Homo sapiens: one gene and its partners. The protein of the gene in region 2 purifies or fractionates together with the protein of the main gene of each other region. This does not show direct contact. Each region holds a gene or a part of one and is shown on either strand. Other genes may lie near its edges.

The links. The genes of interacting proteins can lie anywhere in the genome.
Region 1: the proteins of SYT12 (region 2) and ENTPD7 purify together in Homo sapiens (affinity purification with mass spectrometry; 2 studies listed by BioGRID and IntAct, with this or other methods). This does not show direct contact.
Region 3: the proteins of SYT12 (region 2) and LEMD3 purify together in Homo sapiens (affinity purification with mass spectrometry; 2 studies listed by BioGRID and IntAct, with this or other methods). This does not show direct contact.

The regions. Positions count from the first base shown.
Region 1 is NC_000010.11:99,662,131-99,670,470, reverse strand, and holds part of ENTPD7 (ectonucleoside triphosphate diphosphohydrolase 7), read right to left. Parts: intron 1-8,340. UniProt on the Homo sapiens protein: Catalyzes the hydrolysis of nucleoside triphosphates and diphosphates in a calcium- or magnesium-dependent manner. Preferentially hydrolyzes nucleoside 5'-triphosphates, with substrate preference for UTP > GTP > CTP.
Region 2 is NC_000011.10:67,046,338-67,051,907, reverse strand, and holds the end of SYT12 (synaptotagmin-12), read right to left. Parts: intron 3,325-5,570; coding exon 3,151-3,324; 3' UTR 1,045-3,150; downstream 1-1,044. UniProt on the Homo sapiens protein: Synaptic vesicle phosphoprotein that enhances spontaneous neurotransmitter release but does not effect induced neurotransmitter release. Unlike other synaptotagmins, it does not bind Ca(2+) or phospholipids.
Region 3 is NC_000012.12:65,172,205-65,180,544, reverse strand, and holds part of LEMD3 (inner nuclear membrane protein Man1), read right to left. Parts: intron 1-8,340.

The sequences.
Region 1 (8,340 bases), on a different chromosome or scaffold from region 2:
ATTATATAACACACGACTGTATGAAAAATTAATAAATTTTAACAATTACCCAGCATCCACAGCAGAAATTAAAACATGGTACACTTAGCACTGTCAACAGAACTCTGTGAAATGATGAAAATGTTCTCTATCTGCACTGTCCCATATATCCACATGTGGCCACTGAGCATTTGAAATGTGCCCAGTCCAAGTGAGGAACTGAATTTTGTTTCATTTAATCTTAATTAATTTAAATTTAATTAGCCACTTGTGGGTAGTGACTACCCTATTTGATACCACAGTGTAGACACTCGATAATTGTTGAATAAGTAAACAGATAAATGAATAAATGGATATAAGATATGTATTGAGTCTGAAGAAAATATTGGAGCATGTCTTATGTGGCACATGCCAGAAAAATAGTTGATTAAAACACACATCTCGGCCGGGCGCAGTGACTCACGCCTGTAATCCCAGCACTTTGGGAGGCCGAGGCGGGTGGATCATGAGGTCAGGAGATCAAGACCATCCTGGCTAACACGGTGAAACCCCGTCTCTACTAAAAATACAAAAAATTAGCTGGGCCTGGTGGCGGGTGCCTGTAGTCCCAGCTACTTGGGAGGCTGAGGCAGGAGAATGGCGTGAACCCGGGAGGCGGAGCTTGCAGTGAGCCGAGATCGCACCACTGCACTCCAGCCTGGACGACAGAGCAAGACTCTGTCTCAAAAAAAAAAAAAAAAAAAAAAAAAAACCACACATCTAACACAAGTATTATTCTCAAAAACAGCTCTGCTGTGCATGTGTAGGGTCAGGGGATATGTGGTAAATCTCTGCACCTTCAGCTCAAATGAGCTGTAAAACTAAAATGGCTCTAAAAAAAGTGTATTAAAAAAAACACAGTTTTGGATTCTATCCTTACTGACACCCCATCTCTCTAAATTTACTTTTTTTGTATCAAATAAATTCTAGTTTTGATGCAAACTTCCTACTCTCTCTTTCCAGAAGCAATATGGATACATGTTCACAATAAAGAAAAAAAATGTAAGTCTTTAGTTCTGGAACTACTGAGAGAAAACCCCCTGACAGGCTTCTAAAGTCCTGGTTAATATCCCCTGAAAAGTGATATGTTAAATTCCACCAATGCCTATAAAAAGTTCACATTGAAATATCTGTTTTCAATGCAAAAGTAATTAAAATATTTTAAACATTAACTGCTTTCATATATATTAAAATACAAAGATGCAATGTGCAAGAGAGACTATCATTTCTAATTAAAGCAATGCCTTATTTGTCAAGACCATAAAACAATGAATGGGCCTAGGACAGTGGCTCACATCTGTAATCCCAGCACTTTGCGAGGCCAAGGCAGGTGGATTGCTTGAGCCTAGGAGTTCATGACTACGCTTGGCAACATAGGGAGACACTGTCTCTACAAAAAAAAAAAAAAAAGATATATAAAATAAAATAAAGAATGCATGTAGTGTTCCTCTAGGCACATTTTCCTGATCAAAGGTTTGCAAACTTGCTCCCATGAAGACACGTGTAAGTGGGTTCCTGGAAGACAGCACACTTTCTGAGGGACACCACAAAGTACGGATATAATTTCACTGTGTGAATTAGGAACAATTTAAGTAGAAAAAATATGTCTATATATGAATATAATATAAAAAAATCACAACTACAGGCGCTTGTGTTAAAACTTTTTTAAGCTGTTAAATTAAGGTAGCAAGTGTTTCTACCAATTCCTAGTTACTTGCTTAATCATTTCATCAAAATTTTAAATAGAGATTATAACGCCCATTATCTTCAGTGTATATTTTCAGGCAGAGAAGAGAATTGGAAAACAGAAAAATCAAGATTATTTCAAATAATAGATTGACATTTGATTAGTCAATCAATGCACCTGACATTCCTAGATGCTCTACTCTTCTTATGCAAATGACAAGACTAAAAGACAGCTATTTTTATTCTCACTTTATATATAAAGAATATGAAATTCCAGGATATTAAGAAACCTGCCCAAGATTACCCAACTAGCAAATGATGGGCTGATTAACTCTAATATTAACATTCTTTCCCTTACCTCACAATACCTCCTTAAGTAAATGTAACCAAATCTTAAAGCAGTTTTTCTCAACCCAGGTGGTATATTAGATTCACCTTGAGAAGAGTCCCAATTATTTGCATTTTTCTAAAGGTCCCCAAGTGATTTAGATACACAAAGGTTGAAAACCTCTGATTTAAAATTATCATTAATGGCCAGGCATGGTGGCTCACGCCTGTAATCCCAGCACTTTGAGAGGCTGAGGTGGGTGGATCACATGAGGCCAGGAGTTTGAGACCAGCTTGGCAAACATGGTGAAACCCTGTCTCTACTAAAAATACAAAAATTAGCCGGGCATGGTGGTGCGCACCTGTAATCCCAGCTACTCGGGAGGCTAAGGCATGAGAATCGCTTGAACCTGGGAGGTGGAGGTTGAAGTGAGCTGAGATCATGCCACTGCACTCCAGCCTGGGCAACAGAGTGAGACTCTGTCTCAAAAAAAAAAAAAAAAAAAAAAAGATTATCATTTCATTAACATAAATTTTTAGACTATGTAATAAAACAGTTTTAACAACATATGTAGAACTGTTTACCACTATAGAAACTGTCTGTAGAAATTTTGAGTTATTGAGTCTATCTTTATTAAATTTCCTCTCTCCTGCTTCACTGTCAAGATGCCAGATATAACTGATTATTGTCATAATGTGCCCACATCTAACAACACACCCCACCCACCATTCCAATTTGCTGTTATCTACTGTGTTCTGAGACAAGTGAGAACCATGCAAATGAGAACAGTGTGTAAAATAAAAGCTAACAGGCTTTATGTGAGAGCCTATCTTATCAGTAAAGTACAGGTGCTTTTAGCACATGAACTTAGTGATATCAAATTTGGTTGCTCAAGAACTTCTTCTGTTTAATTTCTGATTCTTAGCTTTGTTCCTAATTCTTAACCTTGTACATAGTTCCTGATTCTTCACTCCTGATTCTATACAACCGTACCTAAACTATTATCTCACTGGGAAATAATTTTTCCTTTATGCCTGCCTCTCTAACTAGATTACGAACTCCTTGAGTTCAGGGGCTATGTTTAGTCATCTTTGTACTCCAGTGCTATCATAGAGTCATCGACACAGCAAACCCTCAATAAATGTTTGCCTCTTAAATGACTCATGGAGGCTGCCCTGAGTGAAGTTTAATGATAAATGGTCATTTGTGGCAATATATACAGAACCTTTCATTAAGTAACAATGAGCTCTGAGCCACAGCATTCCAGGGTGTTAGGACTTTGGTGAGGTCGCCACAGTGGCACAGTCTATGTGTTCCTCAGCTCTATTGCTAACTTGTTTCAATTAATTCAACCTACCAAGTATTTATTGGCTCTGACCACTTGGGATACAGTGATAGACAAGAATTATCAGATCACTCTGCCACCCACATACATTTAAATGCTTTTACCTCTCTCCATCCTCTTGCAACCACAACCATCTCTCTATTGAGGTACAGTCATTGACTTACAATGGTACAACTTATGATTTTTCAGCTTTATGATGGTGCAAAAGTGATGCACATTCAGTAGAAAGTATACCGTGAGTATCCACACAACCATTCTGTTTTTCACTTTCAGTACAGTATTCAATAAATTACATGAGATATTCAATACTTTATTATAAAATATGCCTTCTGTTAGGTGGTTTTGCACAACAGTAGGCTAATGTAAATGTTCTGAGCACCTTTAAAGTAGGCTAGGCTAAGCTATGACATTTGTTAGGTTAGGTGTATTAAATGCATTTTCAACTTATGATATTTCAATTTACATAACCCATCATAAGTCAAGGAGCATCTCTAGTTCAATTACTCTTCCTGCTTTCTTTTTCATTCCTCTCCAATTCTTTTTCCACAATCCCACCAAAGTGAGCTTTCTTTAAGAAGCAGTTCTGGCTGGGCACGATGGCTCATGCCTGTAACCCCAGCACTTTGAGAGGCCGAGGCAGGTGGACTACTTGAGGCCAGGGATTCGAGACCAGCCTGGCCAACATGGTGAAACCCCGTCTCTACTAAAAAATACAAAAACTAGCTGGGCATGGTGCCACATGCCTGTAATCCCAGCTACTTGGGAGGCTGAGGCAGGAGAATTGCTTGAACCTGGGAGGCGGAGGTTGTAGTGAGCCGAGATAGCGCCACTGCACTCCGGCCTGGGTGACAGAGTGAGACTCTGTTTCAAAAAAAAAAAAAATTAAAAAGCAGTTCCAACCTTTTCACTCTTCAAAACCTTTCAAAGCCTTCCTTCTGCCCTGAGGGTAATGCCTAAACCCTCTAAAATAGCTTAACAGACTCAGCTTGATCTAGCTCTCCAGCCATACAGCTCACCATTCACTCCCTAATTGTCTTTAGCCATATTAACTAACCTACATGGAAGTCCATAATTAGACCATGTCGTCTTCAAGTGAGAAACTATGCGCAGGTCTGTCAAGAAAATTCCATAAGCATTAAACAAACTCAAATTATGGATTTAGGTCTCCAAATTTAGTACATTTCTTAAGGGCAGTTGTTGATTACTATAATCATCCAAACAGTGTTTCCTCTTCTGGAAAGGAAAAGAAAGTCGAGGCTGGCATGGTACTCATGCCTGCAATCCCAACACTCTGGGAGGCCAAAGCAGGAGGATCGCTTGAGCCCAGGTGTTCAAGACCAGCCTGGGCAACATAGTGAGACCTCCATCTCTATTTCAGTAACGTTTAAAAAGAAAAAAAAAAAAGAAAAGCAAGCCAAAAATACAAATGAATTGGGCTGCTAGAAGAAGGCAAGGCTGAAAACATAAGCTTCTTGAGAAAATGTACCAAAGTCTCTGTATCTGGTGTCTGATGCCTATTATCGTCTGCACATAGTGGCTGCTCAAATTTTTGTTGAATGAATGAATGAATGATGAATGAATGAATGAATGACCAAAGTGAATGGGAAATGAGAAAATCTGGGGACAGAATCCAGAAATAAAAAGGAGGGTAGGCATGTGTCCCAATTCTGACCAAAAAAGATTCCAGGAAATGGTTGTTAGAGGTTTCTGGCAAGGCTCTTCTCCATTCTTAGAAGAGAGTCATGGAAAGCCTTTCTGTCTCCTACGGGACATAAGTGAATATATATGCTGCCCTGGTTGCTACTGTCTGCTGTTTTTCTTCTCTTTTTTTTTTTTTCTTTGAGACAGGGTCTCACTCTGTCCCCCAGGCTGGAGTACAATGGCGTGATCCCAGCTCACTGCATTCTCTACCTCCCCAGGCTCCAGTGATCCTCCCACTTCAGCCTCCTGGGAAGCAAGGACTACAGGTGCATGCTACCATGCCTGGCTAATTTTTATATTTTTTTGTAGAGACAGAGTTTCACCATGTTGCACAGGTTGGTCTCGAACTCTTGAGCTCGTGCAATCCACCTGCCTCCGCCTCCCAAAGTGCTGAGATTACAGGCGTGAGCCACCATGCCCGGCAGTCTGCTGTTTTTCAACCATTAAGTAAACTGACACTGTGGACAACAGACAGGAGAGACAGAGCCTCTCATCCTGTCAGCCAGTGTTGAACTTGTAGTCCTTCTACCCCTGGACTTCCAGGTATGTGAGCATTCTTATTGTTTAAGTCAATGTGGGCTGTTATTTGCAGCCCAAAGCCTCTTAACTAATACATATCTGAGAAGCAATAAAAAGAAAATTTAGGCCAGGCATGGTGGCTCACGCCTGTAATTCCAGCACTTTGGGAGGCCAACGTGGGTAGACCACAAGGTCAGGAGATCGAGACCATCCTGGCTAACACAGTGAAACCCCATCTCTATTAAAAATACAAAAAATTAGCCAGGCATGGTGGCATGTGCCTGCAGTCCCAGCTACTCAGGAGGCTGAGGCAGGAGAATCACTTGAACCCGGGAGGCAGAGGATGCAGTGAGCTGAGACAGCGCCACTGCACTCCAGCCTGGGCAACAGAGCAAGACTCTGTCTCAAAAAAAAAAAAAAAAAGAAAATGTAAATATTTTAAAAATGAGGCCAGGCACAGTGGCTCACATCTGTAATCCCAGCATTTTGAGATGCCAAGGCAGGAGGATTGCTTGAACCCAGGAATTGAAGGTTATAGTGAGCTATGATCGCACCACTGTACTCCAGCCTGGGTGACAGAGTGAGACTCTGTCTCTAAAGAAAAAAATTTTTTAATAAGAAAATCATGTTGAAGATAATGAACATAACATGCCATTATTTAATTTTGTAGCTTCATCAAAAACTAATCTCAAAAAAATAGCAAAATGAATCACTGCTATAAAGAAATATAGACCTTCTGTGCAACTGGTATAGCTAAAAGTATATAAAATAATTCAGATGTACTATCTGTGAAAAAAGATGTCAAACTTTCACTGGATAGAACAGTAGATTAAACACTACAGAAAAAAATACTAACAAATTTGAAAGCAGCAAAAAAATATACGAATGAAACACAGAGAGAAAAAAGACTGGAAAAAAAATGAACATCAGTGAGCTGTGGGAAAACATCACATAGTTCAATATACATGTTACTGGAGTCCCCAGAGGAAAAGCAGGGGAGAACAACAACAACAAAAATCTGAAGAAGTAATGGACAAAATGTTTCCAAATTTGATTAAAACTACAAATCCATAGATCCAAGAATCAACAAATCACAAGCACAAGAATCAGGTAAGCAGGGCACGGTGACCCATGCCAGTAATCCCAGCACTTTGGGAGGCCGAGGCAGGAGGATAGGTTGAGCTCAGCAGTTTGAGACCAGCTTGAGCAACACTGCGAGACCTCACTTCTACTAAAAATCAAAAAAATTAGCCAGGTATGATGGCATATGCCTGTAGTCCCAGTTACTCGGGAGGCTGAGGCAGGAAGATAGCTTGAGCCCAGGAGATTGAGGCTGCAGCGGGCTATGATTGCACCATTGCACTCCAACCTGGGAGATGCGCGAGATAGTCTCAAAAAAAAAAAAAAACAAATAAAATCATGTAGAAAACAACATCAAAGCACATCACAATCAAATTGCTTAAAACCAGTGATAAACAGAAAATTCTAAAAGTATTCAGAGGAAAAAGATACATTCTATACAGAGAGAACAAAGATTAAAAGGACAGCAGACATCTCAGAAAGAATGCAAGCCAAAAGACAGTGAAGCATCATCTTTAAAGTAATGAAAGGAAAAAAAATGATCAACCTAGAGTTCTATACCCAATGAACATTTCTTTCAAAAGGAAAGCAAAATAGGGACTTTTTCAGTCATATAAAAGTTGAAAGAATTTATCACCGCATACTTGCTCTACTAGAAATGCTAGAGAATGTTCTTGAGGTAAAAGCAAATATGGAAATATGGATCCAGATGGAAATATGGATCTACACAAAGGAATGAAGCAGACCAGAAATGGTAAATATAGACAAAAGTGACTCCATCTTGGATGTTAATCTGCCACATTGACTTCTGACTAGCCTCAGTCCCGTAAATGCCTCTTGATTCCTGCTTTATTTACTACTGTAAGAACATGTCAACCTTGGTGTTGGCACACAAATGACAGGATATGGCACATGCAGCATTCTTACCTGTTCTGGAGGGCTGTCTTTAATTGTCTTGCACAGGGTGCATATACCATCTCCCTGTACTATATAAGCCCTGGGTCTGGGGAGTAACAGTATGGAGATCTATCTGTCTTGCAGCTACCCAGGGCCACGCTTCTGTCTGCAAATTCCCTCAATAAATCAATGAATACCAACGAACAATTTGCCTGCCTCCTCCTTTGGTTTCTCCGTCCCTTCAGCATTCAAGGGTCACTTTGCTTATATGACCCTTTCAGGCAACAATATGGTTAAATACATAAGCCTTTTTTTCTTATATTGAAAATCTCTTCAAAAGACAATTGACTAACACAAAAATAATAACAATATATTGTGGAGCTTATAACATGTAGAAATAAAATACATGACAGTAGCAGAAAGACCAAGGGGAAGGGAGGAATGAAAGTATACTGTTGTTAGGTTCTTGTTCTAGATGTGAAGAGGAGTAATATTACTTGAAGGAAGATTGTGATAATTAAAGATGACACTATAAACTTTAAAGTAACCACTAAAAAAAGAAGAAGTTATATCTAATAAGCCAACATGAGAGATAAAATGGAAACATAAAAACTGTGCTCAACTGAAAAGAAGAGGGAAAAAGAGGAAAAAGAACAAGAACAAATGTGACAAATGAAAAACACATAGCAAGATTAAAACTAAACATACTAAATAATCAGATTAAATATAAATGGCCCGAACACCCCAATTAACTGCAGAGATAGTC
Region 2 (5,570 bases):
CTGATCTTCCAGGGGTGGGGAGGGGAAGGCAGCAGCCTGGGACCCAGCGGGGGTTTCTCTTATGCCCTCAGCCTTACATTCAAGGAGCTGGGGAAGGGGGCGTTGTTGCTGAGTGATCCAGAGCACTGGCTCTGTAGCAAAGACAGGCCGAGCTTGAGTCCCAGCTCTGTGACTTTCTGGCTGTGTGGCCTTGGGCTAGTTACCTAACCTCTCTGAGCTCTTTTCCACATCTGCAAAAAAGGGGATAGCAGCAGCACTTACTTTGAAGTGTTGCAGGCTGAACACCAGCACTCGCTGAATGTGGAAGGCCCTTCTACCCTTCAGAACTCCCCCTTGGCTCTCTTCTTCCCACCCTGCTCACTCCCTCCACCATCCCCCACTTTATTCTGGCCAAATGGATACACTGGCCAAGTTTTCGCCCCCTTGTGCCCTTTTGTATATGGGGTTCCCTGCTAGGAATGCTTCTCCTGCCGTGTCTACCTGATCTCCTCCTTCTGGCCCTGAAGCCTCAGCTGGGTGTCACCACCAGGAAGCCTTCCTTGATACTCCCCATCATCCTACTCTCTCCTGCCAGAGCTGGCTCAGTGGCCCCTCCTCTGAGCTTCCCAAGGAGTCTGATGCATTGGTCCTTCCTTTTTTTTTTGAGACCTTTTTTTGAGTCTTGCTCTGTCGCCCAGGCTTGAGTGCAGTGGCGCGATTTCAGCTCACTGGAGCCCCTGCCTCCCAGGTTCAAGCGATTCTCCTGCCTCAGCCTCCCGAGTAGCTGAGATTACAGGCACATGCCACCACACCTGGCTAATTTTTGTATTTTTAGTAGAGATGCGGTTTCGCCGTGTTGGCCAGGCTGGTCTTGAACTCCTGACCTCAAGTGATCTGCCCACCTCAGCCTCCTAAAGTGCTTAAATTACAGGTGTGAGCCACCATGCCCAGCATGCATTGGTCCCTGTGATGGTCTCCCCAGCAGAGAGAGGCCTCACTCCCCTCTGGGCACTCTGTAGCAGGAAGGAGGGTGCACAGTAACACATAGGAGGCCTGAGTCCCTGATTCCTAGAGAAGAGACGAAGGTGATTCAGGGCCGAGCAGGGCTCCCTGGAAGCCCCCTCTTCCTGCCCCAACTTTATTTTGGTTCTAGAATCATTCCAGTTGGCATACCCGGTCCCCACCACGGCTGTCCTGGGCACACAGTTAACATGTCATGCAGTTAGGGGGAGGGAGAGAGGGGAGAGGGCAGGGGGGGAGTCAGTGGCCTGCACCGCACAGCCACTGGGTTAGAGAAAGTCGGGGTCTCCCAGGCTGCAAAGCCTTGTCCAGCCATGTGTCTCCTGGCCCTGGGCTGACCTCCTGCTGTGGCCATAGGGTAGACAGCCTGGCCTTGGGGCTGGGCCATGGCTGTGTCAGGTAGGGAAAGCCACCATCCTGCCTCCAGTCCCCTGGGCCCTTGTTCTAGCCCCTCCTCCCCCCATATCACTGGGGATAATTTGTTGGCCTGGGTCTCCATAGCTCACCAGTTATGGACCAAGGAACAGGGGCAGCCAGCCTGAGGGTCCATGCTGTCACCTGTGGGTGGCCCCACCGAGCAGATGATACCCCACCTGCTGGCCTGGGTGAGCTCAGCCCTTCCCAGCACTCAGCCATGAAGGCAAGAAGCGGCTTCCTGGGACTGCGGGACACCAGGCTGGGGATGACAAGCTCTGCCTGCTCTCCTCCTACTGGGGCTGGGGGGTAACCAAAGACTGATGCCAGTAGAGGTGCAACAGCCCAGCCCCTCTGCTTCTGGGTGGGAGCCCCCAGGGTGCCCCTCGTACTCCAGGCCCCTGCCCCCACAGCGATCAGGCCAAGGCGATGGATCTTGAAGCCACACTTGCGTGGCTTCCTCCATCCAGCCTGAGCTCCCTTTCTTGATCTGGTAAGTTTCTCTGAGAACACTCACCCGCAAGAAACTACTTGCCCCAGAATCCCCCTCTCAGATTTCGCTTCTAGGGAACTCAAGCTAGGAGACCCGGTGTCGGGGGCACCCACCCCGTGATCGAGAGCCGCCTCCTTCCTAGCCTGGCATTCAGTCTTCTCCTGGCGTCCCTCAAGCCGCCCTTCCACCCTGGCCTTCCCCGGCTTCCCATCAGGCCTCAGCCACCTGGGCTGTCCTTCCGCTGCCACCCCTCCAAGGCCCAGCCCGAGAGCCTCCTTGTCCACCACATCTTCGCAGGCACGTGCAGCCCACCAAGACCTCTGCTGTCAGTATTCTCTCTGCCCCACCCCTGCCACCCCCAGGCTGAGACCTGCCTGAGGCATCTTTCTCCCAGTGGGCCTGCAAGGGCATCAACAAATGCTTGCAGGGTCTGGGCCTGGTTTGCGCAGGACTGAGCACAAGGACCTGGGTCTGGGCCTCTTTGGACCTCTGGTTCTTGCCATGGTTGAGGTCCGGGGAGTAGATTTGACAGAGAATAACTCCGGAGCCAGTGTTCCACGTGGCCGGTAGGCTGCTGCCCGGGCCTGGTCTCTTGGTCTCTTCTCCGGCCCCGAGAAAGGCCCTTCCTTGTATCCACTGCAGTGGGCTGAGAACTGCATTTGCGATGGGGAAGTTCACATCCTGCCATTGCTCAGGCTGGGCCCGCTGCCTGCGACATGCTCAGTTCTTTTCCTGCCCCTCCAAGCACAGCTCCTACCTTGTCAAAGAGGCCCTTCCTGTTTCCCTAGCCCTCAGAGCCCCCTGAGTCCACACAGCTGGGCTGCCATCAGCACTGAGCAGATCCTCCGGGGCAGGGGAGCTAGTCTTCCTGATGCCCTAAGGGCCGGGTCTTCTTCGTGTTACCCCTGCTGGTGCCTAGCACAGTGCCTGGCCCCCAAGATTCACTGGGTTCCAGAACATAGCCCAGCTCGGCAGCTGGCCTACCGGGAGGAGCAGGGTTGAGTCCTCTGTCCTGGCCCAGCCACAGCTGGTCCTCAGCAGGAGCAGACCCTGGGGCCCTGGACACAGAGCCACGCCCACTCCTCTGCTGCAATCTGGACAGAGAGACCAGGATGGGTCATGAGGACTCTGCCAGGGGACCCCAGTGTTCACGGCTCCAGCTGGGCTATGGAGAGGGCATCAGACAGAGCTGAGTGGGTACCGGGCTCCAGCAGCTCCATTGCCCAACTGGCCCGCCCTGGTTGCTAGTTTCGCCGGACAGCGTGCCACATGGACACGGGCCTGCGCAGCGTGGCCAACATCTGGTTCCAATGTGTGGTTCCCATGCCACTGGCTGACGGCCCAATGATGACATGGCCCACGTTGTCCCCACGGCCGTCGCTGCTGCTCTCAGCCACCGTCACGCGGAGAGACAGGTCCTGAGGAAGAGGCAACATGGGTGCTGAGGACCAGGGGCAGTCAGAGGTACTTCTTGGCCTCTGGGTTCAAGGTTACAAATGTCAGGCCCCAGTGGGGTGCCAGGCACAGCTCCCTGAATCCTCACCTCTGATCTAAGAGGTGAGGAGACTTGCCCCAGGTCACTCAGCAAATAAATGGCAGGCAAGAGTTTGAACTAGGCCTGCCTAGGCCCTCAGGTTTCTCTTGCTGCCTCCCTCCACAGTGGCAGCACCTGCCTGCCAGGTTTCAAATGCTGGCCTCCCCAATTCCCCCTGATCCTTTTTTTTTTTTTTTTTGAGACAGTCTCACTCTGTTACCCAGGCTGGAGTACAGGGGCATGATCTCAGCTCACTGCAACCTCCGCCTCCCAGGTTCAAGCAATTCTCCTGCTTCAGCCTCCCAAGTAGCTGGGATTACAGGCTCCTGCCACCATGCCCGGCTAATTTTTGTATTTTTAGTAGAGATGGGGGTTTCGGCCGGGCACGGTGGCTCACGCCTGTAATCCCAGCACTTTGGGAGGCCGAGGCGGGCGGATCATGAGGTCAGGAGGTCGAGACCATCCTGGCTAACATGGTGAAACCCCGTCTCTACTAAAAATACAAAAAAAAAATTAGCCCGGCCTGGTGGCGGGCACCTGTAGTCCCAGCTACTTGGGAGGCTGAGGCAGGAGAATGGCGTGAACCTGGGAGGCGGAGCTTGCAGTGAGCCAAGACAGCGCCACTGCAGTCCAGCCTGGGCGAAAGAGCGAGACTCCGTCTCAAAAAAAAAAAAAAAAAAAAAAAAAAAAGAGATGGGGGTTTCATCATGTTGGCCAGGCTGGTCTTGAACTCCTGACCTCAGGTGATCCTCCCACCTCAGCCTCCCAAAGTGCTGGGATTACAGGCATGAGCCACCACGCCTGGCCTCCACTTCCTTGCTGTGTGACCTTGGGCAGTGACTTGGGCTCTTGCTACCTCAGCTTCTCCATCTGTGAAATGGTGATGATAATATTTGTTCTGGCTGGGCATGGTGGCTCACATCTGTAATCCTAGCACTTTGGGAGGCCGAGGCAGGCAGATCACCTGAAGCTGGGAGTTCGAGACCAGCCTGGCCAACATGGTGAAACCCTGTCTCTACCAAAAATACAAAACTTAGCCAGGCATGATGGTGCTTGCCTGTAATCCCAGCTACTCGGGAGGCTGAGGCAGGAGAATCACTTGAACCTGGGAAGTGGAGGTTGCAGTGACCAAGATCACTCCACTGCACTCCAGCCTGGGTGACAGAGCAAGACTCTGTCTCAAAAAAAAAAAAAAAAAATTGGGGGTGGGCACAGTGGCTCACACCTGTAATCCCAGCACTTTGGAAGGCCGAAGTGGGTGGATCACCTAAGGTTGGGAGTTTAAGACCAGCCTGGCCAGCGTGGTGAAACCCCATCTCTACTAAAAATACAAAAATTAGCCAGGTGTGGTGGCAGGTGCCTGTAATCCCAGCTACTCAGGAAGCTGAGGCAGAAGAATCATTTGAACCCAGGAGGCGGAGGTTGCAGTGAGCTGAGTTCACACCATTGCACTCCAGCTTGGGCAACAGAGTGAGACTCTGTCTCAAAAAAAAAAAAATTGGTTTCTATCTCATAGGGCTGTTTCAGGAACAAAAAGAGTGAACTGTGTAGAACGGCACCTGCGCACAGTCAGAACATGCTAGAGGTTGCGTTGCTATTACTAATATCACCACGTTGCACTCACAACCGAGGACGGGAGAGACTGCTTGAGATGAGAGCGGGAGCTGAAACTCAAACCCAGCCCGATCTCTCTCCTCCTCCACTTCCCCCATGGTCCCAAGAAGTCTCTTGCTTTTAGAGGCTGTGGAGAAGTGGCACTATGACACCCAGGGAGAGGCAGAGGACACATGGGCAGCCTGCTCCACGAGGGTGGCAGGTGAAGGCTACGATACCCAGGATGGGCCAGAGATGCTGGGGTGTGCCCGGGTTAGGAACACTCAGAGTGAGGCAGATTCTGGGCCTTTACATGCTGGCGGGGTCCCCGGGTTGGGGGAGATTAGGCGGGTTCTGTACAGCCCTGGGGCTATGGAGGCAGGTTTTGGCTCAAGGCACAAAGGACTTTCTCATTGTCAGGAGTGCCGAGGAGGGCTAGAGATAGTGAGGGAAGGTGGTGCGAGCCCCATCCTCCGAGGCATGCAAGCAGGGCCCAAGCCCTATCTTCAAGCCCCACCCGTGGTCTGTGATGTCCCT
Region 3 (8,340 bases), on a different chromosome or scaffold from region 2:
ACCTCTGTTACTATAACTTTTATAACCTTTTTGAAGAGCTAATTTCCTAAGAAATATATTTTTTAAATAATGATATTAAACATGCAAAATAAATTATTAAAACCTAACTTATTTTCTTCCTGGTAAACTCTTGTTTAAAAAAATTTTGGCAATATTGTTAATAAAGAATATTATTAACTATATATATAATATATAATATATAAACTGATGCAGTTTAAAGCATAGATTATTAAAACAGTGAAATCCAAAGGTTACTGCTCAACTATACTGTTACTGGTTCACTTTAAAATCTATGTTAGGGCAGGGCACGGTGGCGCACACCTGTAACCCCAGCACTTTGAGAGGCCGAGGCAGGTGGATTACCTGAGGTCAGGAGTTTAAGACCAGCCTGGCCAACATGGTGAAACCTCATCTCTACTAAAAAATACAAAAATTAGCCGGGCGTGGTGCCATGTGCCTGTAATCCCAGATACTTGGGAGGTGGAGGCAGGAAAATCACTTGAACCTAGGAGATGGAGGCTGCAGTGAGCCGATATTGCACCACTGCACTCCAGCCTGGGCGAGAGAACAAGATCCTGTCTCCAAAAAAATAAAAAATAAATAAAATCTATGTTAAAAATAAATCTAAATATGAAAATCAAAATCCAAAGTTATAAGCAAATAACTGTTATAACAATTTCCACAATTAGTATTAAGCTATGTTCCCATATTAAATGGCAGCAATTTTTAATGTATAATCAATACAAGATTAAAATACATCTTTTTTAAAATGTTATTTTAAGTTCTGGGATACATGTGCAGGATGTGCAGGTTTGTTACATAGGTAAACGCGTGCCATGGCAGTTTGCTGCACCTATCAACCCATCACCTAGGTATTAAGCCCAGCATGCATTAGCTATTTTTCCTGATATTCTCCCCACCCCTAGAATATATCTTCATTCGAATTTAGATTATATCATTAGTAATAAAATTTTCACAAACAAGTTAGTAGTACTTATTTATTAACAAATACATTTTGGAGAGTTCCAACAGTTTAAGGTGTCCTTCTCTTTTAAACAACTTACAAACTATATAATTATCTTTGCACTGAGGCTATAAATTTCCATTTATATAACATATTTTTCAGATAGGGAAAGTTAATATTGAATAATCAATGAGCAAGGAGAAGCAAGCTTTAAGAACTTCCCAACTCTTAGGAATCATGAAAATAATTTTTCATGATTATTTTAGTGTCCCTGAAATTATCAAATGCATCATTTCCATTAAAACATATATGAGTATAAAGGGAAAATATGAAGTTTATTCAAAAGGAGCAAAAAAGGGAGATCAAATGTATGAAAAGTTCTTTATATCCTAAAAATGAACAACAGAAAGAACAAGTTGTAATTGGTAATACAAATCAAAAGATCACTTTCCCTACCAGTTTTGAGACTGCAAATATTTTAAAAATTAGAAATAGTTTTAATATTGTATTATTGTTCTATGTATTATATATTATAGTTTGCTTCATAGCAGATGCCCCCTCCCCCTTAATTAATCTAAAACCTTAAGGATAAATAGTTCCATGTGATTCATAATTGTTGAATGAATACAACTTTTCCTAAAGTTGTTAGGTTTCATAGATTATTCCTGCCACTTCTAGGATTTTATGAATCTATACTTGTCACAGTTTTCTGAAAATAAAGACAATAATAGTAGAGAACATATATCAAGTCCTTATTTATACATATTAAAAGGCAATCTAGAAGAACAGTTAAGAGCCACTGTCTGAGTTCAAATACTGCCGCTTCACTTACTAGCTACATGACCCTGGGCGAGTTACTTCTCAGTGTCTCCATTTACTTATAAAATGGGATAAGTACCTACCTCATAAGGATTAAATAATAATTGTTTAGCTCAGTGCCTGGAACACAGTTAATGCTACGTAAGGGTTAGTTATTATTATTACTATGTGCCATGTATGAGTTTTACTTTACACACATTACTTCATTCTCATTTAACCTATTTTTCATATGAGGATATTGAGGTTTACAATGGCTAAGCAACTTGCCTTAGTGAAAAAAAGCTAGTAAGTGGAAGGGCCAATATTGAAGCCCAGGTTCTCTGATAGCTATGCCAGTGTATCCTCAAACTAGTCTCCGTGGATATATCTGTAGAGATTCACAAGTTTTTCCTCATTATTTTTAATTTAAATCATTCTAGGGAAAATTTTCAAATGAAAAACATTTTCATAGAGTAGACTTTAATTTCTGAAATCATCAAACTGGTATATGCAAATCCCTGGCATTCACGGGAATATTCTCATAGATCTAGGATTTTTTTTTTTTTCTTACAAAGCAGTCAACTCGTAAAACTTCAAACATAACATGGAGCTTTCATTCTTCAAGAATGAGAGAATAGGCCGGCTGCTATGGCTGACACCTGTAATCTCAGCACTTTGGGAGGCGAAGGTGACAGGATCGCTTGAGCCCAGGAGTTCAAGACCAGCCTGGACAACAAAGTGAGATCCTGTCTCAACAAAAAATACAAAAAATTTGCCAGATGTGGTGATGCAGATCTATAGTCCCAGCTACTCAGGAGGCTGAGCTGTGAGGATTGCTTGAGTCCTGGGAGGTTGAGGCTGCAGTAAGCCATGATCACACCACTGCAATCCAACCTGGGTGACACAGCAAGACCCTGTCTCATATTGAAAAAAAAAAAAAAAGAATGAGAGCAACAGCTATTTTTCAAAATCCTTATTCCCCATATTCATTTTAGATACCAAGTTCGGGACCTTTTGGCTAGTCTACTTTAAGAAGTAAAAATATTTTTTAAACGACAATGACATTAAAACATGTTACTTCTTTGTAACAACTGGTCTTGATTTTAAAGAAAACAACAACACATTAAAAAAACAAACATTTAAAAGTATTCCCTTAGTAAACAGTACTAGTACTCACATTCAGCACCAGTCTCTCATCTTTACTCCAATTCTGTATCTACAAGAGCCTACAAGAATTTTTCACTTGAACAACTCAAATAATAAGCCCCAAGTAAACTCATTTTCCCTAGACCACTTTTCCCCAAACAAGATCCCTCTTCCACATCTCTAATTCCTCCAATGATATTATCATTCTCTCAGTCATCCAGGCTCATGGCCAGAATAATCTTTGACTCCTATCTGTCTCTTATTCTCTATACTCAAAACCATATGTCTTTCTTCAAATGAATTTCATTCATAGGCCCAACTCCATTCCCACTTATCCACCTCCTTCAGGTGTCATCACCCTACTCCTTCCCTCCAACCCTATCACTGTCTAAACCATCACCTGTTTATCCTTCTTAAAGGACCAATTCGATCATGCTTGTCCTCTGCTTTATAACCTCCATGAATTGCCATTACTCAACCTACAGAATAAAATCCAAATGTTGAATTTAGAACTTTTGATCATGTAAGACTGATCATTTGAGAATTTACAGTGAATTCTCCCCTTTTATAAAAGTGTGTAACCACATAATATCCTGTATGTTTCTTAGCCATTTCCTATTACTGTTATTAGTGGTGTGGAGGCTTCTACAGAAATAAGATTTCTTTTATATATCCTTACCAGATACTAAGTAGATAACCAATTACCGAGTTAGATACTACCAGTTAACAGTGCATATATCCTGAGTACCTGATATGTGATCATTTATTCAACAGATATTTGCTGAATAATGAATCTGTGCTGAAGATACTAATGTGACTTCCATCTACTAAGAGATTTCCATGTGCCAGACAACACTAGTTTAGATGCATTATCTCACTTAATACAAGTCATCCTCAGATAGTATTATCAATCTCATTTTTAGTATGAGGCAATTATATCTCTAGTATAGTCTACTTTAAAAAGTAGAGCCAAAATCAGAACTGAGTAAAAAGTTTGTACTCTTTAACACTGTATTCTACTCCTATAGAAATATTACTCTAAAGAAAGGAGCTGTCATCTATTTGGCATGGTGGACACACAAATATAATACTTTGTCCTAAATACTATGAAGGATGCAATTAATGTCTTATTTGAGCACAAAATGATGGGCCAAACTCTAGGGTAAAAAGATGGAGAGTCAGAGATATCTGGAGATGACATGTTTAAGAATGAATCACAGTTACAAAATAAAGAAACATTCCCAAAAAAGGGGATAACCTGTGCAAAGGTAGAAAAGCACAAATTTCATGACTTACTCAGAAAACAGCAAACAGTTCAGTTTTCTAGAAAGTAAGTGTGATAAGGGAGACTGGTAGAAAGGGCAAGCATAGTCAGATCATGAACAGTTTAGCCAACGAGTTTAGATTTTGGCCAATAACTAAGAGAAAGCCATTGTGTAATTTTAAGCAAGAGGGAATGATCACATTTGTGCTTTAGAAACGCTGCTCTGTACTGACAAATGGACTGGAAGAGCTACAGCCTAGAAGCAGGGACACCATTTTAGGTTACTGAAAGAGTTCAGGCAAGAGACTAACCTAGAACAGTGGCGAGGGACAGAAAAAGATTGATTCAAAAGATATAGAGGAAACAGAACTACAGGACTTGGTATCCAATTAGGTTGGGGGTTTGTAGGAAGGTGAGGGAAAGGAAAGAATCTAGGTAAATCCAAGGTTTCTCTCTTGAGCTCTGTCTGGGTGGATGGAAGCACCATTAACTAAACAGGGAGGAGGAGCAAAAACAAGGTAAATATAAAGAAAATGTCAGATGGTATTGGTACATACTTCTAGTATACCCAAAAGATGTCTAGTAAACAAATAGGTATACCTAGATCTCAGGAGAAATCCAAGGTAAAAATACAAAACTGGAAGATAATGACAAGGAGAGTGAATGAAACTTCCTAGAGAAATGTGTGCAAAAGGAGACAGCCAAAGATCAAGTTGTGGAGACCACCAATATTTAAAACAGGCAGACAGAAGTATGAAAACTAGGAGAGAGTAGTGATACAGAAGCTTAGAAAGGAGAAAGTTTCATGAAGAAGGGAGTTGTCAATGCACTAAATGTACCAAAGAGATGAGGATTTGAAAATTGAGTAACTGGTGACTTGAAGAAGAGAGGTAGCAGAGGAATGGCTGGTAAAGAAAGCTAAACTAGACAGGGTTGAGTGAATGGCAGGGAAGAAAATAGAGGCAGAAAGTTTGAGAAGAGTAACAACTAGAGAAGAAAAGAGCACAGAAGAGCAACATTTTTAGAATGGTAGAGATTTTAGTATTTTTATAGGATGAGAAAGGGACTAGTGGAAAATGAGATTTTAAAATTATACCTCTGTACTTAAAATTAGTATATGGAAAAGTTACCCATGATACAAAAAACAAGTTGCAGAATATGTATGCTATAATATCACTTAAAATTCTGACTCCTTTCAACGGCCCTCAAGGCGTTTAGGTCTTTATGATCTGGCCCATACCTACCTTTAACTTCATGGTATGCCATTTTCCCCTTCATTCATTATGTCCCAGCAACACTGGCCATTCTTTTTGGTCCTTCAACACACAAGCCTGTTTTTGCCTCAGGAATTCTGCACTTGCTGATACTTCTGCCAGAATGCTCTTCTCCTGATCAAAGGCTAGTTCCCTCAAGTCATTCATATCTCAGTTCAAACATCCTTCCTCAGAGAGGTCTGCCTACCTTTATGTAATATTGCATATCTCTTCACCTCAGCCCCCAAAAGTTACCAGCAATACCTTGTGTTAGCAACTACCATTATGTGAAATTCTTATTTACTTGTCCATTCCCCTCCTAGAAATGTAAGCTCTGTAACAGAGATTTCATCTTCCACATATGCAACATATTGTTCACCACATATCCCTGCTGCTTAAAATAATACCGGGCACATAGTAGACACTCTGCTGTTGAATGAAAATCTGTACACACACACATACACACACACACACAGAGATGTATTTACATGAAAAATACTAAGAAAGGTCAGAAAGGATCTAATACTTGAACTTATTTATATGGGGGCAGCATGAGGCTAGGAAGAGAGGCATACAATAACCATTCACTGTTTCCTTCATCTCTATTCAAACTTTCTGCAGAAGTCATGTCTTTTGTAATTGAAAAAAAAATTAATAATGATCATACGAGCCTAGGACAGTCAATCTATTCTGCTTCTCTATTTTCGTTTGGTGGGCTATAATGATCTAATCACCTGTGGAACAAGCGACTACTCTGATTGCAGGTTGATCCTTGAGTTGTTTTGGTATGGCAGTTCAAAGTTAAAATCTTAAATCTTGGAGCTGGAAAGAGCTTAGGGATCATCTAATCCAACCCCCTAGTTTTATAGATGAGGAAGAAGAGACTTATAGCAATTTAATTAATAAAAAAATAGGGCATTGATGAAAAAGTTTCAAAGACTATATGATTAAGAACAATTTAAAAGACTAATCTACTATATGTTATATGTAATTTAAATAATAAAAGCCTCCTAAAAGTTACTCTCACATATAACCTACAATCTTCTGGTGAAAACTATTACTCAAAGTAAACGTATTTCCCTAAGCATACTATTTGACCAATGAACTCTACAGTTAAAGCATCATAATATAACAAAGGATATGGAATACGTGTATGTATGTGTGTGTATATATATATGGAGTGAAAATATTATTCACTCTTGATACCCTAACACTGTTAGGTGTGCAGACTAACTGAAGTTAGCAGGCACTTCTTTCCACAGGGTAGACATACAATACATCAAGTGTATCATACATTTAAGGATTCATTATACTTTGATTCAAATTTCTGTATTAATTTCTATAATGTATATTTAATGGGATAAAAATCAAATGTTAGGTTAAGAAATGCACTATACTATGTCATTTATAGAAATGTCTTAACTATTTATCTCTCTAGATATACTGTAGTTTACCAGGAATACAACAAATTTTGTCCAAATTTCTGAATAATACCACCTTATGTTTAACACACTGTCTCACCTGACCCTCACAAACAAACCCAGAGACAGCAGATATTATTACTTCCATTTAGTATATAAAAATGAGGCTCAGAGATTAAGGAGCTTGACCACAGTCATTCAGACAAGTCCTAGAACCTAGATCCTCTACTTCTTAGCCATTGTTCTTTCCAACGCCCAGATTACTTCACATTTACCATTTACTAAAATGTAAATATAATTTCCTTCCTTCCTTATCAGTGAAGGTGAAGAGTACCAAAATCCTAGCATTCCTATCCTATTCTACCTGAACTTTTAGTACACCACATTAGTCATTCATCTTAACACTGATGAGAAAGATGTGAAAGTCACCTTAACTGAGAATTGTGCTTATCAATAATTCTGTATGAAATCCTACCAAATAGTCAATTACTTTCTTAATCATAATAAAGGTACCCACTTATTTAGAAAGCTCTCTACAAACAATAACCAAAACAGTGTTAAAATGGTCTTTCTAGTTGGAAATAAAATCTGAAACCAAATCTTAGCCCTACTACTAACTGTTCAACACTCAGTGCATTTCTTAACTTAGTATCATCCTCATCCAAAAATGAGGATACCACCACCTGCTTCTGTGAGTTGCTGGGAAGATTAGATGGTACAATAGGTGTAAAGCAATTAGCTCTTAGAAAATGGCCAGATCTGCTAACATGGTGAAACCCTGTCTCTACTAAAAATACAAAAAAAATTTAGCCAGGTGTGGCGGCACGCGCATGTAGTCCCAGCTACTTGGGAGGCTGAGGCAGGAGAATCACTTGAACCCAGGAGGCGGAGGTTGCAGTGACCAGAGATTGTGCCACTGCACTCCAGCCTAGCGACAGAGCTAGACTCTGTCTAAAAAAAAAAAAAAAGAAAAGAAAAAGGCCAGATCTTATAGTTGTTAGAGACACAGATGCAGATAGCTACTGCTGATAGGTAATGTCATTTAATTTATGTGAACTTTTACTTGTTTAACTTCTAGTGTGCCCTTATTTTTTTTCTCCCAAATATTTGGGGCAGGACACAATACACTCATGCTCCCAGGGAATAAACTAAAGTGAGAGCTGAATTTCATTCTTGTTTCAACCCCTGTAATTAAGCAACAGAGTAAAAATCTATTATTTGACTGTCTCGGAATTGGCTATATCTAAATCTAAGCTTACATTATTTTGACTCCTACTCTTTATCTGAGTTGGCTAACTGCATCTTTCACTCTATTTTGAAATAAAACTAATAAGCCAATTTTATAAATACAAATAAAAATACAGTGAATTCATCTTGGGTGAAAAGAGTAGGAAGCCTTCAGGGAGAATGCAGAGAGGGACCTAACACTGAGAAATTATGTATTCAGAAGTCCATTTTGTCCTAATTTACTTTCTCTTTTAATCTTCACAAACA